2 linked regions of the Homo sapiens genome follow. Each later gene encodes a partner of the first gene's protein in a complex. Each region holds a gene or a part of one and is shown in the gene's direction. Other genes may lie near its edges.

What was found.
Region 2: the proteins of SLC9A3 (region 1) and CHP1 are in contact, whole or in part, in a cryo-EM structure (PDB 7X2U), measured with the Homo sapiens proteins. Residues at the interface, in NP_004165.2 of Homo sapiens: Tyr396, Arg397, Met398, Gln400, Glu402, Arg474, Leu475, Asn476, Glu477, Leu479, His480, Gly481, Arg482, Ala483, Phe484, Asp485, His486, Ile487, Leu488, Ser489, Ala490, Ile491, Glu492, Asp493, Ile494, Ser495, Gly496, Gln497, Asn501, Arg504; in NP_009167.1 of Homo sapiens: Arg30, Leu31, Arg34, Leu38, Lys40, Glu49 (codon at 5,091), Phe51 (codon at 5,097), Gln52 (codon at 5,100), Arg53 (codon at 5,103), Ile54 (codon at 5,106), Glu56 (codon at 5,112), Leu57 (codon at 5,115), Ala58 (codon at 5,118), Ile59 (codon at 5,121), Asn60 (codon at 5,124), Pro61 (codon at 5,127), Leu62 (codon at 5,130), Asp64 (codon at 5,136), Ile66 (codon at 5,142), Phe70 (codon at 5,154), Phe83, Leu87, Phe90, Leu115, Phe117, Ala118, Leu121, Tyr122, Leu135, Leu139.

What each region holds. Positions count from the first base shown.
Region 1 is NC_000005.10:516,841-532,183, reverse strand, and holds the start of SLC9A3 (sodium/hydrogen exchanger 3 isoform 1 precursor), read left to right. Parts: upstream 1-7,734; 5' UTR 7,735-7,861; coding exon 7,862-8,072; intron 8,073-15,343. UniProt on the Homo sapiens protein: Plasma membrane Na(+)/H(+) antiporter. Exchanges intracellular H(+) ions for extracellular Na(+) in 1:1 stoichiometry, playing a key role in salt and fluid absorption and pH homeostasis.
Region 2 is NC_000015.10:41,251,824-41,266,206, forward strand, and holds part of CHP1 (calcineurin B homologous protein 1), read left to right. Parts: intron 1-4,876; exon of another isoform or gene 4,877-4,987; intron 4,988-5,086; coding exon 5,087-5,167; intron 5,168-10,932; coding exon 10,933-11,060; intron 11,061-12,341; coding exon of another isoform or gene 12,342-12,364; exon of another isoform or gene 12,365-14,383. UniProt on the Homo sapiens protein: Calcium-binding protein involved in different processes such as regulation of vesicular trafficking, plasma membrane Na(+)/H(+) exchanger and gene transcription. Involved in the constitutive exocytic membrane traffic.

The sequences.
Region 1 (15,343 bases):
CTGAGACCCTGGTCCAGCTCAGAGCCTTTCACAGCGTGCATCACCACAGCCGAATGGGGAAAGTGAGGCCCGTCGATGTCCAGGAGACCTTGCCCAAGCCTGGTGAGGACCTGGGCCTAGCCAGCTCCAGAGTTTTCTTCTTCTCCCCACGGCAGGCATCTGACCAGAAATACCAGGGATCTCCCGGCCTGTCTGAGTCAAAGCCGAAGCTGCAGGATGGGGCAGAGTGGAGAGCTGAGCGCTCCTGGGGAGGGACAGATCTGGGATCCAGCGTGAGCTAAGATTGACTGAACAGCTGCCTGAGAGAGCAATTCCGTCCATCTCCAGCTGTTTCTATGGAGGCAGAGTGGAAGGGCTGTGGGGCAGGCACAGAGGTGACCCCAGCCAGAGCCACCCCCACTGGCAGGTGGGAATGCCCGCCGGTGAATAGCGGCAAGTGTGATGGTGCCTGCCCACTGCACACCTGGTGCACACACGTGTCAACCACCTAGAGCGTGCCCAGCCCTGTAGCCAAGGGACTCACCACCCTTGCTCTGCGGGGGGTGCTCCAAGGCACAGTAAGACTGGTCCATGCCAAGTGAGGGCAGTGCCGGCTCGGCCAGCCACCTGCTCCAGGTCTCAGCTCCCGCAGCTCCACCTGACTTCCCGGTGTTTCTAGGGGTCTGAGGCCCCACACCAGCACCAGCCTCCAGCTAGTGGCGAGGGCTGTCGCTGTGTCTCCAGGCAGTGAACGAGCCTCTGGAGGGTCCCTGGAGGGGAGGAGAGGGAGGACAAGAGCGCATCTCGTGGAGGAGGGGCAAACACACCCTGGGGGTAGATGCAAGGCTGAGCCAGGCAGGCCAGGCAGTGTCTGCTGGGGACACACGCCGGAGCCCCTGGGGGGCCAGGGCCTCAAAGGAAGCCGGAGGAGGAGACCTGGATGATTACTCAAGTGTGAGAGACTCAAGGACACCCGCTGCAGCCAAATTCTGTGTGAACAATGATTTGGAACGCGGCCGCGCAGAGGTGAGCCGGCCTGGGTGGTGGAATGTGGCATCCAGTCCGGCCGCATCTCTCCTTCCTGGCGACTCCACGCTCACAAATTGCCTGCGCATCTCCTCTGACATTCGTCCCCCTCGAGGGTCTGCTTCCCGTGTGCTGCCTGCATTCAGAGGGTACGTCTGTGCCTCATGCAGAAACTAACACCGCTCAAGCAAACATTTGCTGAAGGGACGCAAATTATAAAGACGCCATGGGGAAATGAACCGAGTCCAGGAGGCAGAAGAAAACACATCCAAGGACCCAGAGCAGAGTGAGCTCGTTTTCCTCTGAGCAGGTCTGAAGCCGTGACGGGGCGCACAGGCCGCATCCCTGAGCATGGCGGGCACGGGGGCGATGAGAGGGAGAAACCTTGCTGCCCACACAGGTGGAGAGGCTCAGCTGCAGCGTGAGGATCCTGGGGGGCTGCCGTCAGCCGTCTGCATGTTATTAACTAAGAAAAGGTCTTGGAAGATAAAGATTTTCAGACCCAACTGGAACAAACCAGCACACCTAGAGCTCTGCGTCCCTGCATCCTACGAGTCCCGTTGAGTCTGAGCAGAGCACAGAACACAGAACTGCGTCAATGACTGAGGCAGATTCACCCACACAGACCAGGTTCCTCCTACAAAGCGCCTTTTGCCAAACATAAGAGGACTGAGGTCCAGGTTCCTCCCGCAAAGCGCCTTTCGCCAAACATAAGAGGACTGAGGTCCAGGTTCCTCCCGCAAAGCGCCTTTCGCCAAACATAAGAGGACTGAGGTCACACAGCCTGTGTTCTCTGGGCTGAGTGGAATTACAGTAGATTCAGTAAGAGAAAGATAAGAGGAGAATCTCCAAATGTTTAGAAATTAAGCAATTGTGGATTAAGCAACACACTTCTAAATAACCCATATGTCAAAGGAGCCACAGTAGAAATCAGAAAATGTCTTGAGCTGAATGAGGAACACACAGCATATAAAAGCGTCCAGGATACAATGTCTTGAGCTGAATGAGGAACACACAGCATATGAAAAAGCCTCCAGGATATGCAAAACTAGCCACCAAAGGGAAATCCACAGCTTATTGAAAAAGTTCCACATTTAAAAAGGGGAAATGCTGAAACCAATGACCTATGCTTTCAGCTCAAGAAACTAGAAAAAGGACATCAAAATAAAGGCAAAGCAGAAGGAAGGAAATCATAGTAAAATGTATGAAAGAGAAGACAGATATAAATCAGAGAAAATCAACAAGACCAAAATCTGGTTCTGTGAGAAGATGAATAAAGTTGATAAACCTCCCAGCAATGTTGATCATTAAAAAAGAGAAAACAAAAATCATCGCCAGGAGGTACAAAAGGGAGACATCACTGCAGAGTCTTATGGACACAGGGGAGATTACAATCACATTATGTGCTTTACATCAATAAACATGAATTTTTGATGCAATGAACACATTTCTTGAAAAGTACAATTTATCAGAATTAAGACAAAAAGTCAAAAAATATGATTTATCAAAATGGACACAAAAAGAAAAGTCCAAACAGCCTAATATTTATTAATTAAATCCATCATTTAAAACCTTTCCACAAAGAAAGCTCCATGTCCATTTGGTTTCACTGTTGAATTATCCTATAAATTTCCGCCACACCCCTTGCTAGATTTTTTTTTCCTAGGTATTTCATATTTTTGATGCTGCATGAATAGTACTGTTAAATTAGCTTTCATTTTCTAAAAAGTGTGTTGTTCGTGCATAGAAACCCAGTTCACGGTGGCTTGTTGGCTTTGTAGCCAGCAGCCTTGCTGAGCTAACTCTTGCCGGTTCTGAGAGTGTGCGAGGAAGACCTCTGTGCTGCCTACAGGCGGGAGCTGTCTTGCATCCTGAAGATGGGGCTGAGGGTGGGGGCCGGTGGCCGAGGTTCCTGCCTCAGAGGAGCCTTCCTGAGTGCCAGCACCTGCTCCAAAGATGAGGCTGAGGGTGGGGGCAGGTGGCAAACGTTCCTGCTTCAGAGGAGGCTTCCTGAGTGCCAGCACCTGCTCCTGCCGGCCTTACAGATGCTACCTATCAGCTTAAAGGAATCTGCTTCTATTCTACGTTTCCCAAGGGTTTCCCCTCCCGAAATGCGGGGGCCACAGGCGAGCGCCACCACTCGGCTACTGTTTTTTATTATGTTTTTTAGAGACAGGGTCTCACTATGTGGCCCAGGCTGGTCTCGAGCTCCCAGCCTCAAGTGATCCTTCTGCCTGGGCCTCCCAGAGCGCTGGGCTGGTCTCTGCACACGGTTGGATTCGGTTTTAGTGCTTCCAGTTGTGTTGGGCAACGGGGTGGGCGGGTTTGCCCGGGGCGGCGCGGTCCCTCCGGGTCTGTTGGTGCCCGGATCCCGGAGCCCCGGGCGGGGGGAGGCCACTGGCTTCGCGCGTGACCGCCAGGTCCGCAGCGCCTTTCGTGGCCGGAGACGGGGCGAGGCGACCGGAGGTCTCGGCCCAGGGGCGCGGGGGAGCGGGGCGCGGGGCGGGGCGGCGGCCGGGAGAGGGGCGTCCACGGGGGAGGTCGCCTGTCCGCGGACCGCTAAGACACCGCAGCAGAGGCGTCCGGGGCGGGCGGGGCGGGCGGGGCGGGAGGGACAGGAGCGAGAGGGTTCGTGCGCTCAGCGGGACGGAAGCGGTTGCGGATGCACATGCGGATGCGGAGAGAGGCCCATGGCGAGTTCGGCGGCGTGGCCGGCCGGGCTGTCCCCGAGGGCGGAAGGGAGGACGCGCGACCCCGACGGGCACTGACGGGCCGGCCGGGGACGGTGCTGGGAGGGCCTGCCGGGCCTTGCCAGGTCCCCCGCGCCATTGCCCTGGGGTGGACTGCGGGGCACAGAGACTCTCCTGCGGCGCCGTCCCCAGCCCTTCGCCCCTCCCGGCGCAGCCCCCGGCCCCTGAGCTCCCCACCCAACCCCGGGGCCCCTGAGCTCCCCACCCAACCCCGGGGCCCCTGAACTCCCCACCCAACCCACGGGGGGAGCTGCCGCTTCAGACACAGGCCCTGAGCTACCCCCGCAGGGGTGTCACAGTGGGGGGGTCTGACTCCAACCCGGGCTGGTGCCCTCAGGGAGCCAGGAAAGGTGAGTCTCCGCGGGTGAGGAGACCCCAGGCCCAACACGGACAGGACGGACCAGAGCGCGGGCCTCAAGTCCTGCAGGCCCTCCAGCTCCAGGCTGGTCAAGAGTCTGTCCATCTCTGAAGAAGAGGAAAGGTCCCACCTGAGGCCTCAGAGGCCACCCGGGAAGGGAAGGGCTGAGCTCTAATCTGCTTTTGAGAAAGACATTTGTATCCCCCGGATCCAACAACCAATAAGAGTGGCATTGACGGGAGGTGGCATGACGGGGGGGCGCGGTGGTCTCTTTCCTGGAAGGGCATCTCCCAGAGGGGCCTCTTGCCTGAAGCTGAGATGTGCCTGGCACACAGCAGGTGTGGACCAAGGGAAGGCCAGCAGGTGTGGCTCCCAGTGGAATAAAACCTTCCTTAAGAAGACCTGGCCCCTGACAACTTTGGGTTGAAAAATAAACTTAGAGTGGGCAGTGATGCCTGTCTCCTGCCTGGCTTCAAGCATTGGAAGTTACTTAAAAACTTAACTTTCTTCTCTTAAATATTGTTAACAACAGTATGAATGGATGCGCCTCTTCATCCACAAGACACTTTCACAAGCCGTATGTGGAATTCATGACAGGAAATTAATGTGACAGACTAGGTGTTTTCAGTTTTATTTTCTTAATCCTGAAGTTCAGATGCTGTGGCAGCTGGGTATAAGATTACAGTTGTTTTCCGACTGGCTTTTGCATTATTTCCACATTTTTGAATGTTTTACAGCCACGCCCCTTCCCCATACGTGCAGGGGGTCCCTGGACCACAAGGGGTCCAGGCCACGGTGGAAGGATCCAGAATGCTATGCGTGCCTGCCTGAGGCAGGAAGTGGTCGGGCAGTTATCAGATCGTCACCACCCACAGGACAGGAATGTTCTCAGGATACTTCCCAAGACCCCCTCACACACACACACAAGTCTCTGGGTCTTTTTGGCCATGAGGATGTGCAGGTTGTGCACTGTACAATTCCAAGGGGCACGGTTCATACAGTCTGCCTGATATGGATGGTGGCCCCTGCAGTGGTGGGGTGCCACGGCCCTGCCTAAAACCACGACCCAGTTAGAGGGAGGGTTTTGTGGCTCCAGTCCGAGGGTAGGGGAGTGGGTGTGCACACCCTGTATAATCCCCTAGACTGGCTTCTGCATGAGGCTGGCATCCTCAAGGCCATGCCCATCACAGGCTGGGGCAGCGCCCGTCTGCCCCGAGCCCTCCAGCAACCTTGGAGTGCAGACGCATTTCATCCTCCAAATGCTCACAGATTGAGATGCTGCCAAACAGCCACACTTCTCACCTGTGCAGGGACTCGTGGGCAGTGGGGTGTGCCCTGGCAGGACTCGTGGGCAGTGGGGTGTGCCTTGTTCTGGCCACGCCACTTCAGGGGCTCATTGCCTTTCTATTCTCCATGAGGCAGCCCTTCCTGCTGTGGGGGGCAGTGGAGGTGTGGGCAGCACACTACCTGATGGCCAGCGCCTGGCACTGGTGTCTGTTCTGGATTTGTCCTTCCAGGCAGTGACACTGCTCTTCTGCCCTTTGAACAGCTTTGTGGAGAAAGGTTGTCGGCTCTTAGGACAGGCTGGTTGGGGGGTGGGGTGGCCGGAGGTCCAGTGGGCATCATGGAACACACTGGTCTGGTGGAAATTTGGCCTTCCTGTGGAATGCAAGGGCAACATCTTCAGAGAGGACGTCGTTCCTAACGGCTCCACCCAGGAACCATAAGGAAAGAGCAGGGAAGCTCCGGACTGGAGGGAATCCTGTTCTTGTCCTGCTGGCTTTTTCTCTGGGACAAGAGGCTGGGAGTGGAGTGGGGGACAGAGACAGGTGGGGCAGGGACACAGGCCAAGAGCGACTCCGATGCTCCCACCTCGCAAGACCATACTAGTGGCCAGTCACACACTTCCACTCCCCCGGTGCCCTGTCCAGACCCTGCAGTGGCCCAGGCCAGGGCTGCCCTCCCTCCACGCCACTCAGCAGCCGAGTCACCAGGCGAGCACCATCTGAATGCACCTTCCCTGTGCTACACGGGCCACTTCCATTAGCATGAAACTGGGGCCCTTGCAGGGTGAAGTCATTGAACTCAGCACTGTCCTCCTCAGGCCTCCGCAGCCCCCACTCAGATGTCAGAAGACACATCCATCCTCCATCTGCACCCACCCCACCGCCCACCTGCCCTTTGTCCACCTATCTGTCCTTCCATCCATCTATCATCCATCCGCTCAGCCACTATCTTGCGAGTGCTATTGTGTGCCCAGCTATCTTCCAAGCTCCTGGGATGTATGCATGAGCCCCTTGCTCGTGGAGCAGACATTCCCAGGGTGAGGGCAGACAGCTCAAGGTCAAAGCCAGCAGCCCCCAGGGCTGGGAGGTGAGCTGATTCCCGGAGCCAACCGAGTAAGCAGGGGAGGCGGGAGCTTAGCTGCCACAGTTGTGAGCTGAGTGGGTATCGGGTGGGACCAGAAGGTGGCATTGGAGCCAAGCCCCTGGGGAGCTGAGGAAGGGAGCACACAAGAGCCGTCCAAACAGAGGGAGCAGGGCGTGCAAAGGCCCCGAGAGGCGCCGATTGCTGGTGTGGGCCGTGGAGTGCATGGGGGTGGGGGTCAGGCAGTGGCTGGGGTCTGAGCTCCCGGGAGACGTTGAGCCTTTCCTCTGAGAGGGAGGGTCCCAATAGGAGGGACTGAAGGGGCAGGTAGAGGGCCGAGCAGGAGCCTTTGCAGGTGGCTGCAGGCTCCCAGAAGCCGCTGGTTTTGTGCACATTTTGAAAGTAGAGCAGATATGCTAAGAGCTTGGAAACCTTGTGAGCGAAAGAAGTCCACCTGCGTCCCAGGTCTGGGGCTGGAAGGCTGCAGGGTGGGCTTGGAGGAAAACAGGGGTGTGGTTTGCACAGTGGAGCCTGAGATGCTTAAGAGAGCCAGTGCTGCCGGAGCGGGCTGTGGGCAGAGGCCCCGCATCCGTGTGAAGCCCTGGGGGTATCGAATTGTTTTGGGCGGAGGTCTAAAGGCAGGGGATGGGGCAGGGGAGACCACGGGGGCCCCTGGGCTCCCATCTCAGAGCCTGGGGTGGGGGATGCTGGCTGGCGATGGGAGGGGCAGAGAGACTTACCAGCGCACCACGCAAGGCCTGGGCGCCCCCGAGTTCTGGTAAGTGGCCGGTCCGGCTGTGGAATGCAGGTTCCTGCTGAAGACAATAGCGAGGGGCTGTGTGAAGACACACCTGGGGCCCCTGTGCACCCTTGGGCCGCCCTGTGGGGTCTGCGCAGCCCCAGGCCCTGCGTTTATGAAGGAGGGTTGGGGCGAGCGCACCCACAGCTGCCCGGGCATCCCAGGAGCTGCGCGGAACCGCCTGTCCCGCTGCCCCGCGCTGTGCTCCCCACGCCCCAGGAAGGCGGCCGCGCAGTCCCGGGCTCGCTCTTGCCGCGACCTCCCGGACCTCCAGGCCGCGGGCTCCGGGGGAGGGTGGGCACCAGGGAGCGCGGGGTGGGCGTGCGCGGGCGGGGCGGGCGTGCCGGGAGCTGCGGCGGTGTCTGCGCTCGCGAGTGCGCGGCGGGGGCGGGCAGGCTCCGCCCCGGGGCGGGAGGGGGCCGCGGGATTAAAGGCCACCCCGGCGGGCGGGGATCGGACTGTAGCCGGTACCGGCACCGGAGCGCGCCGGGTCCTCGCCGGGTCCCAGCCCCGCGCGTCGGCCCAGCCCAGCCGGGACCCCCCGCGACATGCGCGTCCCAGCCCTGCGCTGAGCAGGCGGCAATGTGGGGACTCGGGGCCCGGGGCCCCGACCGGGGGCTGCTGCTGGCGCTGGCGCTGGGCGGGCTGGCGCGGGCCGGGGGCGTCGAGGTGGAGCCCGGCGGCGCGCACGGCGAGAGCGGGGGCTTCCAGGTGGTCACCTTCGAGTGGGCCCACGTGCAGGATCCCTACGTCATCGCGCTCTGGATCCTCGTGGCCAGCTTGGCCAAGATCGGTAAGTGGCCCCGGGGTCTCCGGATCTGCCCGCGGGGTGTGCGGCCGCCTCTGCTGGGCCTGGGGGCTTCGTTGTGGCCGCGCGCATCAGGTCGGAGCCGCGCGGCGGCCGCCCGGGAGAGTCCGGCTCTCGGGTCCAGCAGAGCGAGACTCGGGAGCGACTCTGGCCGCGCTAAGCCGCCCCTGCGGGTCCCGAGGTCTCCCCTCCCCGGCGGGGGCACAGCCTCGGAGCCCCGGACTCCCGGCTCCCGGGTCCCTGTGGGGTCTCCGCCCCGCCTCCGCTCCGAGCCCCGCAGACTGCAGGCTGCTCGCGCCCAGGGAGTCCCCGGGGCCGGGTTTCCTTCGGGGTTCTCAGGCTTTTTAGAGAAACGTCCTTGGAGTGATGGCGTTTTTTCGTGAGTTACAAGGGCAGAAAAGAAAAGCGGTGCTACCCGCATGAAACCCAGCAGAATCCTCCCTACAGGCGCAGCGTTCCCATTGGCGGGCCTCCTTTTTTTTTTTTTTTTTTAGAAAATCCCGGTCGGTCAGATTTCTCTTCTTCTTAACCGGCGCCAATGAACCAGTAATGTGGGCACGGCAGGTAGCTCCTGGCAAGGTGACAGGAAGGTCAGCTTCCTGAGGAGCTCGTGGGGATCAAAGTTTCATGTGTTGGTCCACAGGGTAGGGTCTCTCCAGGGGTGGCAGGGAGGTGGTCACTCGTGTGGAGGGGGGATTAGGGGGCCCGAGTGGGGCCAGGAGAAGCAAGATCAGAGCAGCAGGCGCCGCGGCAGGTTTCCAGAGCAGCTTTGGACTGGGGCGAGAGGAGGTTTCGATGCTGGGGCCGAGGAGGGGCGCCCACGCAGGACAGGGGAGGGACAGGCTCCGGGGAGAACAGCTGAGAGGACCTTGGCCTTGGTGGAACCTGGTACGCCCAGCAGGCTTGATTGGAGAAGGCGCCTTTTCCTTCAGTGACGCCTGCCGCCTGCCCTATTTATGCCAGGGTCTCCCCTCCCCTTCAGGCCCCTTGTGTGTTTGCTTTCTGTCTCATAAGGGCTCTTCTGAGCCCTCCCGCCTCCTCCCTTCTCCGCAGCCTCCTCCTCGCCCTGGTGTCTTTCAGCTCCCCGCCGGGCTGCCTGCTCTCCAGGCTCAGGCTGTCCTCCCTGGGCTTTCCACTGGGGGCTTGGGATGCTGGCCGGGGGGGAGTCTCTGAGGCTGGCTGCCTCCTACAGTTGATTTCCTTGAGAAGGGCCCCTGGGGCATCAGGGAGGTCCAGACTCAACCTGGGCTCTGCGGCCGCCCAGTCCTAAAGCTCACCCTGCTTTCCTCTGACGGGAGTGCCCCCCTGGTGTAAACTGAAAAGGTAATTTCTTTTTTTTTCTTTTTTTTTTTTTTTTGAGATAGAATTTTGCTCTTGTTGCCCAGGCTGGAGTGCAATGACGCGATCTCGGCTCACTGCAACCTCCACATCCTGCCTCAGCCTCCCGAGTAGCTGGGATTACAGGCATGAGCCACCACGCCCAGCTAATTTGTATTTTTAGTACAGACAGGGTTTCTCCATGTTGGTCAGGCTGGTCTTGAACTCCAGACCTCAGGTGATCCACCCGCCTCGGCCTCCCAAAGTGCTGGGATGACAGGCGTGAGCCACCGCGCCCGGCCGTGAATATCTAATTTCTGTACAAGCTGGGGCCTCTCCCAGTTTAGCCCAGTGTACAGAGTCAGAATCTGGCATCTGAAGGTCCAATGACAGCCGCCAGGCACCAGCCAGCCCCGCCTGGGAGCCGGCAGATAAGGCACACTGACCAGGGCTTTGCCTGGCCTCAGAGTTTGTTATTCACAGGGAAAAGCCTTCAGGTCTCCCAAACACTTGGACTGGTTCTGGGAAGACGTCCTTGAGGGCGGGGAGGCTGCCGGCTCCAGCAGCAACTCCCCGGGGCAGGGCGGTCCTTTACAAAGGCCCACCCTGATAGCACTCAGCGGCTGTCTTTGTCTCGGATTGTTGGCTCCACCTGGGAAGGCGAGCCTTACCCTGTGCAGCTGTGGGAGCTCATCGCGGTATCCCACAGGCGCAGACCCTCTCCAGACCTGCCCTTTACGCTCCCTGTCGTCCCCTCAACCCACTGTGCACTCTGCAGCCCCGGCAGTGACAGCTGAGGTCTGCTCTGGGTCTGCCCGGATTGGCCCCCAGGGTGTCCCACCCTCCATCCCCTCTCTGCCAGCCACACCTCTTGAACACAGCCCCCAGCCCTCCCTGTGTGCTTCCTCCCCCAACCCCTTCCCTGTGAACTCTGGACTTCTCAGATTCCACTGGCCCAGACCGTCCTCCTTGTGCAGCCAGCCTCAGGTGCACGACCTGTGTTCCCAGAGGACCCTCAGGTCCAGGCCTTCACAGACACCGGGGCCCAAGCCTGCACCACAGCGGGAACTTCTCCAGTTTCACCCAGCCTCCTCCACATGCCCACAGCCCCCGGACTGGGGTCTGAACCTACTAAGCTGCTTGGCACATTTTGTTGTTTAAAATGGTCAGGGGTTGGCCACACTCTTTCAGTCTCAAGTTACACGAACAGAAATGTCTCTTCCAGCAGAAAAGAGCTGCCATTCCTGTTGCTTTTCCAAACATTTGTTGAATTTCTCACACATCCTGAGAGTTTCTAACTCACAGCCCCAGCCTTCTTCAAGCCATTTGTAACCTGGTTGGGGAAATAAGAGTCCGGGTACCCTGAAACCCACAGCAATGTTGATCCCAGGAGATTTCTACTCCAGGCAGCTTGGGACAGAGGATGGCCAGAGGGCCAGAGCTGCCTCAAGCAAACACTGGGGCTGGGGCCTCAGCAGGTGGCCCAGGAGCCTGGGCAAGGAACAGGTGCTGCTGTTGGCCCACCAGCCTCAGGCCGCGTGTCTGGCTCCGGCAAGGGCTCCCCACAAGCCCCCTATTTGTGTGCACTGGGGTTCCCCTGCCTTTTACAGCATCTTTTTAAAATGCAGAAGGGGAGGCAAGGGCCGAGGCCACGGAGCCACTCCACAGCGCAGACCTCCCAGACTGAGAGGACGAGGAAGTCTTTAGCAGTGGAGGCGGCAGGGCCTAGTGTCTGCCTCAGGCAGGGTGAGGGGGCTTCCTCCTGTGCCCCTTGGGGGCCCCCAGCCTGCAGCCACCCGCACCAGGGCCACTCTAGGCCTTAGGTGCCCACCAGAATCCCCGCCTCACCCTGCACCGTCCGTGTTGGGAACCCTGGGCCAGGCTTTCCTTCCTTCCTGGGCTTCCTCTGGGGGCTGAGGCTGTGCCTTGCAGAGACTGCCAGGCCTGGCAGCACTGGGTGGGGGCCCTGGGGTGGGATCCAGGCAGTGGCAGGTGTCAGGACTGCAAGCAATGGGCCCCTGGAAGGAGAGGGAGGCGGGGGTGTCAGAAGCCAGAGGAGGAGGCCTAGGGTGGGTCCCTGGGGAGGCAGAGGGAGGCCCGAGCAACTCAGCTACAGGCCTTGGAGGACTTTGGTCCCCACCTAGCGTCGTGGTGAGGAGTGGATGTGGTCAGATCTGAGTTCTCAGACGACTGCCTGGCCATGGGGCAGAGAATGGCACCGGGGAGATTCCGGGAGGATGGTGGGGAGCTTCCCTTGGGCATCAGGGCGGTGGACAGCAGGGCCTCCTTGAAGCAGGAGTGGGGATGTCACAGGGTCATCAGTGACACAGCAGGGGCCAGACCTCCTGGCCCCATCCTGTTCTCAACCCTTCGGGGGGCTCTGCTGCGCTGACCTCGCCCTGCAGCTCTGAGCCACACATGAGCGACAGGACCCGACCAAAAGGGAACTGGGGGAGTTACAATTTTGAGATGTCGGAAACCGGGGAGGGGCTGGGGCCGGGAGTGGATTCTAGGCCCAGCTGGGTCTATTTGTCCCCAGGCGTCTGGCCGTGGGTACCCCTTGGGTCGTGGACGCACAGGAGGTGTGGGAGCTGACATCCCATGGGGCCTGAACTCCAGAGCTGGGCAGCGCTGGCTCAGGGAGGTGGCGCCTTGAGGGTTAGGACCTGAGCAGCGGCAGTGACTGCCCACGGGGAAACCAGGACAGTGGGGCTGGGTGGGGGCGGTGGGGGCAGGCTCTCGAAGTGGAGCTTGTGTTGCTGAGGGATGTGATGGCGGAGGCCCAGGCCGCCCCACATCTTGGTGAACCCTGGCTGGAAGGGCAGGCAGGAGCGAGACGGGTATCTGGAGTCTGCAGTGCCTCGCGCAGCCGTAGGAGGGTCAGGAGGACGCTAGGGCACAGGGTCAGGAGTGCAGCCCCCTGCTCTGAGCGGCGCAGCCCCCCCACCCCCCTCTGAGCGGCGTTACCCCCACTGTGGGAGTGTGGGAATGCTTTTCTGCAGGAGCTTCAGCCTTGGGGTTCCAGCACCTCCTCCTTAACTGGACAGGGTCAAGACCCAGATCCCTGAGCGCCAGGTTCCCTGCTCCCGGCCCCAAATCTGAGGCACTGGGTGCTTCCTTGTTGTCTGGGTGGGTGCAGGAGGTCGTCCTCACCCGACACTTGACTCCCGGACCCCCGCTGTCTTACCCAGCGTGTCCCAGGGAGCCTCCGCCACTGGGGGTGTGACACTGCCTAGACCACCTGCCTAAGCTGTGGATTTCTCCCAGGTGCAGCCTTCCACCGGGCACTCAGTGCCCAGGCTGTGAGGGCAGCTGTGGGTCACCTTCACCTCCTGGGGTGAATGGTTTTATTGCATGTGCTCTGGTCCTGGAGGCAGGAATCCCTCAATGCGCACAGCACCTACCCCTTCACCATATCTGCTACCCACTCCAGCTGAACTGCCCTTAGGTTCTCCTTGAAGAAGCATAGGAAAGGAGGTTCTGGGGACAAGGATGGCCTAGAAGGCCAGGGTGGTCAGCAAAGTCCCCAGGGGACCCAGTCCTCCCAGGAGAGGACCAGTGAGTGGGCCCTGTGGACCCCAGTCCTGGCAGGAGAGGTATGCTCAGTGGGTTTGGAGTCAGGAGCCATCACGGGAGGCCTGGAAGCAAAGACTCTCCCAGGAGTCTCCACAGGGGAGGGTCTGGCCCTGAAGGGGTGAAGTTTCATTTTCCAGGAGCTGCCCACGGAGAATCAGCTGTAGGCTATAAAACAATCCATGGCGTTTGGAGCTAAGGTGTCGCCCGGGAGAATCCTGAGGAAAGGGGCAAAGGTTGGGAAGTGCTGATAGCATCGGGGCAGGGAAGGAACCACCAGGGCTCCCTGTGGGTACCTGGCAGCTCCGCCAGAGGCTGAGAGAGAGACAGGGATGGTGAGTCACTCTTGGCCGCCAGCCCCCCCAGCCCACTCCCTGCCACCCCAGGAGCTCCCCGCCTCTGGGCGTGTGTGGCGCTCCCTGTGACCACACAGGCTTGTTAAGATGCCTGTCTGGGCCCAAGCTCCAGCACCCAACCAGCCTCATGTCTACTGCAGAAATGGCTGAGCTCTCCCAGCGTGGCCACCCCCACTGCCGGCTTCTCCAGGAGCCAGGGGCTGCACTGGGGCATGTTTAGAGTTGGGGTTCCCATCCTGCACATCATCTGCCCAGCGTCTGGGCTGAGTCCCACAACCAGGAGTCTCAGTGCACGATGAAGCCACCAAGGCTTTCCTCACCCACCCTTGAGACAAGAGTCTCAGGATACCAGGTGTCAGGGTGCCAGGTGTTGGCGTGCCAGGTTTCTGGGTACCAGGTGTTGGGGTACCAGGTCTCAGGGTGCCAGGTCTCAGGATGCCAGATCTCCAAGTGCCAGGCCTCAGGGTGCCCGGTCGCGAAGTGCCATATCTCAGGGTGCTAGATCTCAGGGTATCAGGTCTCAGGGTGCCAGGTCTCAGGGTACCAGGTCCTGGGATGCCAGACTCCACCCTCCCCCAAATCATGCACTCACCCCAGCTTCATCCCTTCACACTCAGCATCTCTCCTGCTCCACCTTTCCTGAGCTCGGAGCCTTCCTCCTCTGAGCTCCTGAGGACACCTCCTCCTCCAAGGTCTTTTGGCTCAACCAGGTTGATGCCACAATGGCAGAGGTTGTCTGTCTTATTCCTCCTGTGTCCCCAGTGCCTGTCCCCAGCAGAGTCCTGCAGATCTGAGCACGTGAATGGACATGTGGATGGATGGATGGATGAGTGAATAGATAGATGGATGGATGCGTGGATTGATGAATGGATGAATGGATGAGTAAATGGATGGAAGGGTGGATGAGCGAATGGATGAATGGAGTGAATGGATGGATGGATGGATGATGGGTGGATGGATGGATAAGTGGATGGATGGATGGATGAGTGAATGGTCAGATGGGTGGATGAGTGGATGGATGGATGGATGGATGGATGGTTTGGATGGATGGATGGTTTCGGTGAATGGACGAGTGGATGGATGGGTGGATGGATGGATGGATGGGTGAATGGATGGATGGGTGGATGGCTGGATGGCTTGGGTGAATGGATGGATGGGTGGATGGATGGATGGATGGATAGATGGATGAATGAATGGATATATGAATGAGTGAATGGATAGATGGATGAGTGGATTGATAGATGGGTGAGTGAGTGGATGGATGGATAGGTGGATGGGTGAATGGATGGATGGGTGAATGGATGGATGAGTGGATTGATGGATGGATGAGTGAATGGATAGCTGGATGGATGAGTGGACTGATGGATGGATGAGTGGATGGATAGATGGCTTGGATGAATGGATGAGTGAATAGTTGGATGGGTGGATTGATGGATGGATGGATGAATGAATGGATATATGGATAAGTGAATGGATGGATGGATGAGTGGATTGATGGATGGGTGGGTGAGTGAACTCATGGATGGATGAGTGAATGAATGGATATATGGATGAGTGGATAGGTGGATGAGTGAATGGATGGATGAATGAGTGAGTGAGTGAATGGACAGATGGATGGATGGCTGATGCGTGAATGGTTGGTGGATGGATGAGTGGATTGATGGATGGATGAGTGAGTGGATGGGTGAATGGATGAGTAAATGGAGGGATGGGCGGAAGGATGGGTAGATATGTGGATGGATGGATGGATGGATGAGTGGATGGATGGATGCACCCACAGGTGGGTGAAGGAGGAATGAACGAATGAGTGGATGGACAAATGGATGGATGAATGCACACATGGGAGAGTGAAGGAGTGGAGGGATAAACATTGGCTTCCCATGTGTAAGCTTCATCCAAAACCATCTGGACACTGGGCCCAGGAAGAGGCTGTCTCAGCTCCTCGGCTGAATTATTTCCTTAAATTACTGCAGAGCCTCCAGTGAGCAGCACACCTACTTCTGGATGACA
Region 2 (14,383 bases), on another chromosome or scaffold:
TTAGAGACAGGGTTTCCCTATGTTGCCCAGGCTGGTCTCGGACTCCTGGGTTGGGATTACAGGCACATGCCACTATGCCTGGCTTATTTTGTATTTTTAATAGAGACAGGGTTTCTCCATATTGGTCAGGCTGGTCTCAAACTCCTGACCTCAGGCGATCTGCCCACCTTGGCCTCCCAAAGTGCTGGGATTATAGGCGTCAACCACCACGCCTGGCCATCTTATCCATTTAATTTAAAAATACTGATTAAGTGCTTTAGCTAATGGAAATTTTTGTCATTTCAGTGTTAATAAATATGTTGTACCATATGCTTAACCTCTCATACTACTTAAAATGGAAAGCTGTATTTTCTTTTCTTTTTTTTTTTTGAGACAGAGTCTCGCTCTGTTGCCCAGGCTGGAGTGGTACAATCTTGGCTGACTGCAACCTCCGCCTCCCGGGTTCAAGCAGTTCTCTGCCTCAGCCTCCCAAGTAGCTGGGATTACAGGCACCCGCCACCACGCCCGTCTGATTTTTGTATTTTTAGTAGAGACGGGGTTTTACCATCTTGGCCAGGCTCGTGTCTAACTCCTGACCTCATGATCCACCCACCTCGGCCTCCCAAAGTGCTGGAATTACAGGAGTGAGCCACCACGCCCGGCCTGGAAAGCTGTGTTTTCTAATTGAATGTGTGTTCCAGTGGGTATGTCCTATTAACAGATTTTAATCTCCTCATTATGTACAAGTCAACTAAAGCAACAACCTGTGGGTGCTTGAGATAGAAGTTACCTGTGAGGCTGAATCTCTCTGTAAGAGAAGGGACTTGCACAGTGAAGGTGAGCAGTATAGAGGGATGGCATGTCTGGTTACTAACAGTCTAAAAACCCTGGTTTTTCTAAGCATCCCTGTGCCCTTGAATGTTTGGAAAACCACTCCCCATTGGAAATTTCTTGGCCACAAAGAATGCCATCGTACATGGCTCTGTTCTCAGAATTGACTACTACCAGTGATACTGTCTTTTTCTAAAAAAATCTTCAAGGAAGGTTTTCCTAGGTATACCATGAGGCAGAACATAATGTTGGTATGCTTTTCAGTGAATCCACACAAATCTGTATTTCACATGGTTTTTTTTTTTTTTTTTTTTTTTTTTTTTTGAGATGGAGTCTCACTCTGTCACCAGGCTGGAGTGCAGTGGCGCAATCTTGGCTCACTGCAACCTCCACCTCCCAGGTTCAAGTGATTCTCCTTTCTCAGCCTCCAGAGTAGCTGGGACTACAGGCTCGCGCCACCATGCCCAGCTAATTTTTGTGTTTTTAGTAGAGACGGGGTTTCACCATGTTGGCCAGGATGGTCTTGATCTCTTGACCTCGTGATCCACCTGCCTCAGCCTCCCAAAGTGCTGGGATTACAGGCGTGAGCCACTGTGCCCGGCCTTCGGATGGATCTTATGCTTGTGGTGTTTAGGCCACTTTGGAGTATTTATTTTTTTCTATTAGGTTTATGTTGATGGGTAAATTTGAGAATCTAAGTTTTAGAGAAACTGCCCAGATCTACATTCTACTATAAAGCAACCAGTAATAATAACTTGTTCGTATATTATTTATTTAACAGTTGACAAAGTATTTATTTATTTATTTATTTATTTATTTATTTATTTATTTATTTATTTTGAGACGGAGTCTTGCTCTGTCACCAGGCTGGAGTGCAGTGGCGCAATCTTGGCTCACTGCAACCTCCACCTCCCAGGTTCATGCCATTCTCCTGCCTCAGTCTCCCGAGTAGCTGGGACTACAGGTGCCCGTCACCACGCCTAGCTAATTTTTTGTTTTTTTAGTAGAGACGGGGTTTCACCGTGTTAGCCAGGTTGGTCTTCATCTCTTGACCTCATGATCCTCCCGCCTCGGCCTCCCAAAGTGCTGGGATTACAGGTGTGAGCCACTGCGCCCGGCTGACAAATTATTTTTTATACTCTTTCTGTTTGTTTTGTTTTTTCTGTTTTGAAACAGGGTCTCACTCTGTCACCCAGGCTCGAGGGCAGTGATGTTACCATGGCTCCTTGCAGCCTTGACCTTCTAGGCTCAAACAATCCTCCCGCTTCAGCTTCCCAAGTAGCTGGGACTACAGGCACGTGCCACCATGCCTGGCTAATTTTTTTTTTTTTTTTAAACTTTTTAGAGATGTGGTCTTGCTCTGTTGCCCAGGCTGGTCTCGAACTCCTAGCCTGAAGCAGTTCTTCCACCTTGGCCTCCAAAAGTGCTGGGATTATAGGCTGAGCTGCCATACCCAGCCCTCTTTCTTTTTAACTTTAATACTTTTAGCAATACTGTCCTTGATCTGGGTGACTGGAACTACATTATATATACAATCTAAATTCTAAGAGTAGAGTTAGAAAGTATCAAAGGACAGGTCCATCGGAAGGCCAAGTGTACACCTCCTTATTGAGACTGAAGTTCAGGCTAGGTTGTGCATCACCACTTGATACTAGACTTGGTATTTAAACTGCCTTTTCTCAGCTAAAGTTTCTTAAGCTTGTTAGACATTAAACTGAAGTATGTAGCCATGCAATTCAAATCAGCCTTAGTCTTAATTTAAAAGTGAGTAGTTATTGTTTCTTGACCTCTGTCAGACAGGAGGAGCTACATTTTGATGATAGTGTAGACTTTGTATTACAGAACAAATTATGTAATAAAAGCTTAGTACATGTTTGTTGAATTAAATAATCAGGACCTCGGTAATTTTCTCTTTCATCATCTTAAGCAATCCAGTTATCTTATGAATGACTTCTTCTGGTTCATGCATTGATATAAAATTATTACACTAAATGGTCAAGAAGGACTAGAATCCAGGATGATTGTTCCAGAGCTTTGTGTTCAGTCCACTAGGTCAGTTTCTACCTGTGTCACCAAATGTGGTGGAGAAGAGCTTGCTGAGTTAATTAAGCACCACGTAAACGTTAAACCACAAGAGGAAAAGAGCGTGAAGTCTCCTGGGTACAGTAGGAGTATTTTATTATCTTCCGTCTTTGCTAGCATATATTACAAAGAGGGTGGAGGTATACATTTTATCTGTCTGTAAGTAAACTTCTTGAAGGCAGGAGTAAAATCTAGTTTATAATCTTTTTTTTAACTTTTTATCTGGAAATAATTTTAAACTTGAAGTTACAAGAACAATACAAGATAACTTTTATTCTGATACCCAGATTCACCAATTGTTAACATTTTGTCACATACTTCACTGTTTATTTCCTATAGAAAGGACATTCTCAGATCAAAATCAAGAAAGTTGCATTTTGAAACAGTACCATTATGTAATATTCCATATTTTATATGGTCCATGCTTCATTTTCACATATTATCCAATAATGTCCTTATAGCAGTTTTTTTCCTAGTCCGGGATCATGTGTTGGGTTTTGTTGTGTGTCTCTTTAGCCCCCCCTTGATCTGGAACAATCCTCTGCTTTTCTTTGTCCTCCATGACATTGATATTTTTGAAGACTGCAGCACAGATAAGTTGTAGACAGCTTTGTATTCTTGGCCCAGGAACCAACAAAAGAAAGTTTTTAAAAAATACTTATTGAAAAATTGGGGGACTGGGTGCGGTGGCTCACGCCTGTAATCCCAGGACTTTGGGAGGCTGAGGTGGGTGGATCACCTGAGGTCAGGAGTTCAAGACCAGCCTGGCCAATGTGGTAAAACCCCACCTCTACTAAAAATACAAAAATTGGCCGGGCATGGTAGCACCCGCTTGTAATGCTAGCTACTTGGGAGACTGAAGCAGTAGAATCGCTTGAACCCGGGAGGAGGAGGTTGCAGTGAACCCAGAGATCAAGCCACTACACTCCAGCCTGGGAGCGAAACTCCATCTCAAAAAAATAAAAATAAAGAATTTGGGGGAGAGTAACTTTCATTCAAAAGGTTCAATATTAGGGCTGGGCACCGTGGCTCACTCCTGTAATCCCACCCAGCACTTTGGGAGGCCGAGGCCGGCAGATCACCTGAGGTCAGGAGTTCAAGACCAGCCTGGCCAACATGGTGAAACTCCGTCTCTACTAAATGTACAAAAAACTAGCCAGGCGTGGTGGAGAGTGCCTGTAATCCCAGCTACTTGGGAGGCTGAGGCAGGAGAATCGCTTGAACCTGGGAAGTGGAGGTGGCAGTGAGCCAAGACCATGCCATTGCATTCCAGCCTGGGTGACTGAGCAAGACTCTGTCTCAAAAAAAAGTTCAATATAGGAAAGAAATATGGTTTTTAGAAAAAGAACACATACTTTGACTTACAGACTTAGATTTAAATCACAGTTCTGCTACTTAGGAGTAGTGTGGCTTTGGGCAAGTTACTTTATCTTCCTGACTCTCAATTTCCTCAGCTCTAAAAGGGTATACATAAAACATTGGCGTGAAGAAATGAGAATAATGTATGTAAACAGAGCAGCACATGATATATATGTGATGAATGGTAACTGACAATATTCGCTTTGGTATAACCTCGCCTAAGTCATGTGAGGATGACTGCTCTTGTCATGTTTGAGGGTTAAATACTTCTGTAGCCCTAGTCCACAGAACATGGAAATGGAGAAAAAGCCAGAGTCAGAACAAGGAAATCAATTGGTTGTCACATTATTTCCTTGCATGTAAATAGCACCTAAGAATTCCTTGCATTTTGTAAGTGCCTAAAAATCTTAACAAGGATATGGAGACCCCTCTAAGTGTTTGTCCCCATATTCAAGTTCTGCAGTATTTGATACTTTCCATTTGCTGTTCACTTTCCAAACTTAATAACTAGGTACGCAATGCTAATGTTCAAGAAATCATTTACTAAGGGACAGCTTAGTATTTGTCCATCAGTTGGCTTATTGACGTAACCTGTGTGCTAAATTCACTGGAATGTGGCGTAATCAAATCTGGCTCCTTCCACTTCTGAGTTGGTGCAAGAAACACTTGGCAGCTATTAAAGTGCTATTCTTTGCAGTTATTTGGTATAATTTGCCACAGAAGTAAATTCCAGGAGGTAATATTCTTGCTAGGTTACACCCTGTTACCTCCTGACTTAAGGAGTTCATGCTAAGGGCAATGATCTCTATCTAACTCAAGGTGATTCTCTTGGCAGCCGGGAAGATTTCCAGAGGATTCCAGAACTTGCCATCAACCCACTGGGGGACCGGATCATCAATGCCTTCTTTCCAGAGGGGTGAGTCAGTACAGTTGTTGGACTTCCTTCCTGAGGCTATCACAACCTAAATTATTTGCTAATCTGGAATAATGATATTGGTTGTGCCATCTCAGACTGTGATACCCCCTGATTATATTGAGCAATTCTAATTTTGTCATTTCTAGAATATCTCTTCTGTTCTACCCTCCTGTGTGTTTTAAACTTCAAATAGATATATGAGCCTATCTTCAAAATTCTTATGTTTATCATTGATGTAAAACTAGACTTTTAAAAAATGTTTATTTGGAAATAATTTCAAATTTACAAAAAAGTTGCAAAAGTTAAAAGTAATTCGGAGAATACTTGTATATTTATTGCCCTGATGCATCTACTGTTATATTGTTAACATTTTGCCTCATTTGTGTGCTCTCTTCTTAGTAGTAGCCAATAAAAATATAATGCAAGCCACATACGTAATTTTACATTTTCTAGTAACCACATTTAAAAAGTAAAAATAAGTTAACTTTGGTAATATATATTTTATTTAATATATTTAAAATATTATTTCCATATATAATCAATATTAAAAATAACTGAGATCCTTTTTTCGTTTGTTTGTTTGTTTTAAGACAGAGTCTTGCTCGGTCGCTCAGGCTGGAGTACAGTGGTGCCATCTCGGCTCACTGCAACCTCTGCCTCCCGGGTTCAAGCGATTCTCCTGCCTCAGCCTCCGAGATAGTTGGGATTACAGCCACATGCCACCATACCTGGCTAATTTTTGTATTTTTAGTAGAGACAGGGTTTCACCATGTTGGCCAGGCTGGTCTTGAGCTCCTGACCTCAGGTGATCCGCCTGCCTCAGCCTCCCAAAGTACTGGGATTACTGGCGTGAGCCACCATGCCCAGCCTACATTTTTTCATAATAAGTCCTTGAAATCCAGTGTGTAATTTACACTTAAACACATATCAAGTCAGACTGACCATGTTTTCAGTGCACATAACCAGATGTGACAAGTGACTGCAGTATTGAACAGCGCAGCTTGTACACCCGTGCTTACTCTACATACCCTCTCTTGCAGACACTTTTTCCCTCTCTCTTTCCCCTCTCTCTACCTACACATACTCTACGTGTGTGTGTATATACATACATACATGCCTACATGTACGTACATACATACACATACATACATGTATGTATATACACATACTTATGTAATTTTTTTGTGTATGTGTGTTCACATAATTGTATTTCTGAACTATTTCAGGGTAAGTTGCATAGTAATGACCCTTTACCTCTGAATGCACCAGTGTGTGTTTGCTAAGAATAGGGACATTCTTTTACATATCCATAGTATAGTTATCTACTTCAGTAAACTTAACATTGATACAATCCTCTTATCTAATCTATTACTCTGTTTTATTAACATATTATCCAGTTTATTCTAATTTATATTCATATTCCAATTTTGTCATCCAATAATCTGTTTTATAGCACTTCCCCGCCTCCAGTACAGGATCTAGTCTGGGTCAGTTGTCATGTCTCTTTAGCCTCCTTTAATCTGGAACATTTCCCCAGCCTTTATTTTACTTTCGTGATATTGAATAAACATAGTTCTCACCACATATGCTTTGTCAAGTAGATTGTTCTTAATGTGGGTTTTTCTAACATGAAACTAGTCTTTTGATATGCTTTACTACCTAATACACTGCCTTCACAGTAGTGAGTAAATATTTACTGATTTGATTAGGTACCTTTTCAACAATAAAACTTACATATAAGCTTGTTTTAAGTAATTTCCTAAACAATCTATTCCTGGTTTATATGGATAGTCTATGACCCACAGGACTTCAAAATATTATATGGGTGCCAGTTTTTAATAATGAGACTGTCAATGAGGACACTGTCAGATAAAATGCCTGGAGAGGAAATTTTAGAACTCTAAATTGAGAGCAAAGGAATTTGCTAGTTGAGAGGGTTGGGCATTCAGGAAATGTGAGTGAAAGTCAGAAGGGGAATTAGGTCGGGCAGTTAGTTCATGTAAAGATGGGAATCAAATCACGTTGACTATGAGGAATCTTATGCCCTCTTTCATTTTTTCCTTTCTCTCTCCTTGAACTGCCCTGTTTGTTTCAGGTGTGGTTTTTATGCTGAATTCTTCCTTTTTTCTAATTCCTCTTTTACCCCTGCAAAGCATTGAACCCTATCCAGAGATAACTTTCACAGCTATGCTTTGTATCCAAACCTTTTGCAATGAAAAGTAAACCCAGGAGAGTCACTTTGCCAACTTTTTTTCAGAATTCCTTAGTCACCATTGATTACTTGAAGAAGCAGCTTGTGGGAAGCTGTTTTGTAAGACTAAACTACATTTGCTGTGACTACAATATCACCTGTCATTCTGTCCACCAATCTACTGCTAAGGAAATGGGACAGAGTGCATATGAGGAAGTGGAGGGCTCTACTGGGCTGCACTGCTTAGCTCTTAGCAAGCTGCGACTCTGCTTCTTGCTCTAATCAGATAGATATATTTGGCTTCTGGGTTTTTCTTTCTTCCCTAGGCATATGCACATTGGGGCTTTTTTTTTTTTTTTTTTAAAGAATGAGATTTGAAAGTGGACCATGGTTATTCAATTCCCTTTTACCCAGAAACTTTATGCTAGCAATAATCATTAATGTGTTTTTTCTAGCATATGTTTTAAACTTTACTCCACATTACTTGATTCCTCAGATCTGACATTTTTGACCAGATACTGGTCCATTAGCAGTATAGATACATCGAAGAACTAAAAGGTCATTCTTTTGTTTTGTTTTTTGTTTTTTTGAGACGGAGTCTCCCTCTGTCTCCCAGGCTGGCATGCAGTGGTGTGATCTTGGCTCACCGCAACCTCTGCCTCCTGGGTTCGAGTGATTCTCCTGCCTCAGCCTCCCCAAGTAGCTGGGACTACAGGCTCACGCCACCACGCCTGGCTAAGGTTTCACCACGTTGGCCAGGCTGGTTTTGAACTCTTGACCTCAGGTGATCCGCCCGCCCCGGCCTCCCAGAGTGCTGGGATTATGGGCGTGAGCCACTGCACCCAGCCAAGGTCATTCTTTTGAGTACAGATGGCTCACAGGCTAGCCTTTGAACTCTGCCTTTAGAAGGGCTATGAACTGCATGTCTATAGAGCACAGAAGAGAACCTACATACCTCAGCTATTCGGTGGGGCACAGAAAGGCTGGGGTTTTTTTTTTTTTTAGGTAACCACAGGAACCAGGCCATCTGCCTTAGATAAATAAATTATATTATGTTACATGGGGCATTCTTTTTTAATATTAAAGAACATTCTTCATTCAAGTTTTGAGAATTATTTCTTACAGGGTTATTGATTAGCCTGTGGCACAATGAAAAGATTTTCTCCAAGCTTAAGTACCAAAAAGGCTTTATACACAAGAGGTCTTTCAAAACTTTTTTTTTTTTTTTTTTGAGATGGAGTCTCCCTCTGTCACCCAGGCTGGAGTGCAGTGGTGCAGTCTCGACTCATTGCACCCTCCATCTTTGGGGTTCAAGTGATTCTCCTGCCTCAGGCTCTCAAGTAGCTGGGATTACAGGCATGCACCACCAGGCCCAGCTAATTTTTGTATTTTTAGTAGAGACGGGGTTTCACCATGTTGGCCAGGCTGGTCTTGAACTCCTGACCTCAGGTGATCCACCCACCTTGGCCTCTTGAAGTGCTGGGATTATAGACGTGAGCCACTGTGCCTGGCCTAAAAGATTATTTAGAGAAAAATTATCCAATTATGAGGGAATAATAAAATCATGATGTGTCCACAGAATTATGCATATGTTTTAAATGTTTCAAAGTATTTATATTGATTGGAGAAATGCTTAAAAGTTAAAAAAAAAGGCAGGATACTAATACAGTTATCTGAAAAGCATAGAAAAGTTACTAGAAGAAAATGCATTCATATATATATGAGGGAGTCTTGCACCGTCACCTGGGCTGGAGTGCAGTGGCGCAGTCTCGGCTCACGCAACTTCTGCCTCCTGTGTGTTCAAGTGATTCTCCCACCTCAGCCTCCCAAATAACTGGCAGTATAAGCGTGAGCCACCATGCCTGGCTGATTGATTGATTGATTAATTGATTGATTCCTTCCTTCCTTCCTTTCCTCCCTCCCTTCCTTCCTTTTCCTTTCCTTTTCCTTCCTTTTCCTTTCCTTTCCCTTTCCTTTCCTTTTCTTTTTTTTTGACATAGTCTTGCTGTGTCACCCAGGCTGGAGTGCAGTGGTGCAATCTAGGCTCACTGCAGCCTCTGCCTCCCAGTTTCAAGCGATTCTCCTGCCTCACCCTCCCGAGTAGCTGGGATTACAGGTGCCCACTACCACGTCCAGCTAATTTTTTTGTATTTTTAGTAGAGACAGGGTTTTACCATGTTGGTCAGGCTGGTCTCAACTCCTGGCCTCAAGTGATCTGCCTGCCTCAGCCTCCCAAAGTATTAGGATGATGGGCATGGACCACCGTGCCCAGCCAGAAAATATATTTATATTAACTGTGGTTGTAATTGGTAGAACTCGGATCAGTATTTTTCTATCTACTTTTCTTTTTTCCACATTTTCAAATTTATGTTTGCTTTTATAATTAAATAAACTTGGCTGGGCATGGTGGCTCATGCCTGTAATCCCAGCACTTTGGGAGGCCGAGGTGGGCAGATCATGAGGTCAGGAGATTGAGACGATCCTAGCTAACACGGTGAAACCCTGTCTGTACTAAAAATACAAAAAATTAGGCTGGGTGCAGCAGCTCACACCTGTAATCCCACCACTTGGGAGGCTGAGGCGGGCAGATCACCTGAGGTCGGGAGTTCGAGACTAGCCTGACCAACATGGAGAAACCCCGTCTCTACTAAAAATATAAAATTAGCTGAGCGTGGTGGCGCATGCCTGTAATCCCAGCTACTCCAGAGGCTGGGGCAGGAGAATCGCTTGAACCAGGGAGGCGGAGGTTGCAGTGAGCTGAGATCGCGCCATTGCATTCCAGCCTGGGCAACAAGAGCAAAACTCCATCTCAAAAAAAAAAAAAAAAAATACAAAAAATTAGCCGGGCATGGTGGCGGGCGTCTGTAGTTCCAGCTAGTCAGGAGGCTAAGGCAGGAGAATTGCTTGAACCCGGGAGGCGGAGGTTGCAGTGAGCCGAGGTAGTGCCACTGCATTCCAGCCTGGATGCAAGACTCTGTCTCAAAATAAATAAATAAAGCAAGACTTTATTTATTTATAAGCAGAGCAAGACTCTGTCTCAAAATAAATAAATAAATAAGAAAAATTAAAAATTAAATAAACTTTATTTTAAAAGCGGCCTTTCCATAATGTGCCTTAATTTTAAAATATCCCTTGGTATACATTACTGCAGGGGAGATGGGGGAGATGTGGGAGGTGGCTGAGGAGTCATTGGGCTGCCTGTGGCTCGCTGCAGAGTTCAAAGCAATGAGTTCAAGTTCTGGCTGTCTTGTATAGTGCTGGCACTACTCTACATTCATTTTTTGGAAAACAGATGCAAGTAAATTCAATAGATAACTTTATCCCTGGTAAGTCCTGTTACCTAAATCTGGTTAAATCATTTATAAAGTGGGAGTAATAGCACCTGCCTTACAAGGTTGGGGTGAGGCTTAAATGATATGGTACTGTGAGTCCCAAAGTACCATGCGTATGGAAAGAAACCTCATTAAATGACCTTTCAGGCTACCGTAGCTAAAGCTGTTGCCAGTATATTTAATTCATAAGAAATAATCACCGTGATTGACATGGTGTTGTGTTTGTTATATTTCACAATCAGAGAGGACCAGGTAAACTTCCGTGGATTCATGCGAACTTTGGCTCATTTCCGCCCCATTGAGGATAATGAAAAGAGCAAAGATGTGAATGGACCCGAACCACTCAACAGCCGAAGCAACAAACTGCACTGTAAGGAGCTAAAGTCTTCTGGCTTAAAATACTTGCTTTTCATTTCTTAAAAGTCATGTATTTACTCACTCATTATTTGAACAAGCATCTACAAGAGCATACTGGTTAAGACCTCAGACTCTGGAGCTAAACTGGCCAAGATTAAATACTAGTCTACCCTTTTTTGGTCGTGTGACTTTGGGCAAGGTACTTAACCTCTTTGGGCTTCAGTTTTCTCTTCTGTAAAATAGGATACTAAGGGGTTCCACATTGGATTGTTGTGAGGATTAAATGAGTTAATAAATGTCAAGTGCTTCACATAGTGCCTGGCATATACTAGGTACTTAATAAGTGTTACCTAGTATCATTATAATTCATTGAGCACCTACCGTGTGCCAGGCACTGTGTTAAGTGCTAGCATGGCAATAGTGAACAAGACCCAGGCCCCACCTTTAAGGAATAATGGCAATCCTCAGCTCATCTTAGAATTTGATAGACACTGGATGTGACTTAAGTAATGGGGGACAGCTGGATACAGTGCAAGATTTAATTTTTATACCCGTGTCTCATGCCTCTTTTCCTTTAATACTTGTTTGCCTTCCCTTCTGCCCTTATTGGTTCATGTACAATATTGCCCAATCCCTTACAACACTTCTCCAGGAAATTGAAATTAAATTTATCTTTTTATTCAGTACAAGTTGAAATTACAGTTGTATTAAAACTGACTGAAGGCTGGGCGCAGTGGCTCATGCCTGTAATCCCAGCACTTTGGGAGGCCAAGGTAGGTAGATCACTTGAGCCCAGGAGTTTGAGACCAGCCTGGGCAACATGGTGAAACATTGTCTCTAATAAAAATACAAAAATTAGCCAGGTGTGGTGGCAGGCACCTGTGCTCCCAGGTACTTGGGAGGCTGAGGTGGGAGAATTGCTTGAGCCTGAGAGGTTGAGGCTGCAATGAACCTTGATGGCACCACTGCACTTCAGCCCAGGTGACAGAAACTCTGTCTCAACAAAGAAAAGAAAACAAAACAAAATCTTCGAAATAGCACTAGTGGATTTGGGCGTTACATGGTGTCTTAGGATACCTTTAGCTGACTCAGCTGGCTTAAACAATAGGGAACTATATTAGCTCACTTTACAAGTCAGATTAGGCCGGCAGGAGGGTTGATTCTGTTTCAAGAACTAGGGATTTTTCTCTTTACTCTGCCATCCTCATAGTCTGTTTTATCCTAAAGTATTATGGTCACATGGCAGCTCTCAGTTGTTAACAGGGCTTTTTTTTTTCTTGTTCACATCTGGCAGTAGAGGAAGAGAGATATATATAGAGAGAGATCGAGACTGAAATTGAGCAACACTCCTCCCAAGCATGGAATGTAAGTCCTTCCCCTCACTTTGATAAGTCAGTTCAGGTCAGGAGAGTGCGAGTGCCGAGGAGATTAGGCTAATGAGATTCCCCTCCTGATGCTGTGATTGGGGTTCTGCTAAGGAAAAAGGTTGGAATGCCACAGAAATGGCAGACTTCAGGATGAGATAGAATAATAACAAAGTGCTATGCAGGTTATGCTTGGTTTTATTTTGTTTTTGCTTAATTTTTTGAGATAGGGTCTCACTCTGTCACCCAGGCTGAGTGCAGTGGCGTGATCACAGCTCACTATGGCCTTGACTTTCCTGGCTCAAGTGATCTTTTTGCCTCAGCCTCTCAAGTTGCTGGGACCACAGGCGTGTGCACTACACCCAGCTAATTTTTTATTTTCTAATTTTTTGTAGGGACAGGGTCTCACTATGTTGCCCAGACTGGTCTCGAAATCTTGGACGCAAGCAGTCATCCCACCTTGGCCTCCCAAAGTGCTGGGATTACAGGCATGAGCCTCCATACCCAGCCTGTTTTTTTCATTACATACTTTAGTCTTGGCTGTTGGATTAACTTTTATAGGAAGCTAAAAATTAATTAGAATTCTGTTGCAGTCTATGTATAGGGATCACATTCATGTAATTAGACCAGTAAAACCGAAGCTATTCTAATGCCAAAGAAAAGACTAGAAGAGTCCGAGAAGTCCTCAATTTCTGTCTAAATGTGTTGCTTCTCTTTGAAGTTCCCACAGGGCTGTATAAGCTGTAGCATGGTGCCTCTTACTGTAGACTGAGAGCAATTGAATGTCATATACCTAGCAATACATTTGCCACTGAGACACATTTACCTTAGAGAAAGGGGATGTGGGCCAGGTGCGGTGGCTCACGCCTGTAATCCCAGCACTTTGGGAGGCTGAGGCAGGCGGATCACCTGAGGTCAGGAGTTCGAGACAAGTCTGGCCAACATAGTGAAACCCCATTTCTACAAAAATACAAAAAAAATTAGCCAGGCATAATGGTGGATGCCTGTAATCCCAGCTACTCAGGAGGCTGAGGCGGGAGAATTGCTTGAACCTGGGAGGTGGAGGCTACAGTGAGCCGAGATCATGCCATTGCACTCCAGCCTGGGTGATAGAGCGAGACTCTGTCTCAAAAAAAAAAAAAAAAAAAAAAAAAAAAAAAAGGAGATGTGTTACTTAGAAATCTGGGTTTACAGGCCAGGCATGATGGCTCACGCCTGTAATCCCAGCACTTTGGGAGGCCAAGGCGGGTGGATCACTTGAGATCAGGGGTTCAAGACCAGCCTGGCCAACATGGTGAAACCCTGTCTGTACTAAAAATACAAAAAATTAGCTGGGCGTGGTGGCGGGCGCCTGTAATCTCAGGTACTCGGGAGGCTGAGACAGGAGAATACTTTGAACCTGGGGGGCAGAGGTTGCAGTTAGCCGAGATTGCACCATTACTCTCCAGCCTGGGCAACAGAGCAAAACTCCATCTCAAAAAAAAAAAAAAGAAATGTGGGTTTACAGAGGAGTGGAACCAAATTTTATTATGGGTTATACTTTGCATAGAATACTGTCTTCAGGAACTCTGAGAACACACTTTGTTCTATTTCTTTTCTAAGCCACGGTGAGAGAATTTTAATCACGATCAGCAAGGCTGAACTATGCCCATGTAGGCACAGGCCCAAGCACACATAGTGCCACTCTGCTCTTCTGTTTGTCTCCTGGAAGTGGTACCTTATTGCTTTCCTCTTTGGATTGGTGAGGTTATAATAATGCTTTCTGTAGGCCAGGCGCGGTGGCTCATGCCTGTAATCCCAGCACTTTGGGAGGCCGAGGTGGGTGGATCACCTGAGGTCAGGAGTTCGAGACCAGCCTGACCAACATGGTGAAACCATGTCTCTTCTAAAAATACAAAATTAGCCAGGCATGGTGGTGCATGCCTGTAATTCCAGCTACTCAGGAGACTGAGGCAGGAGAATTGCTTGAACC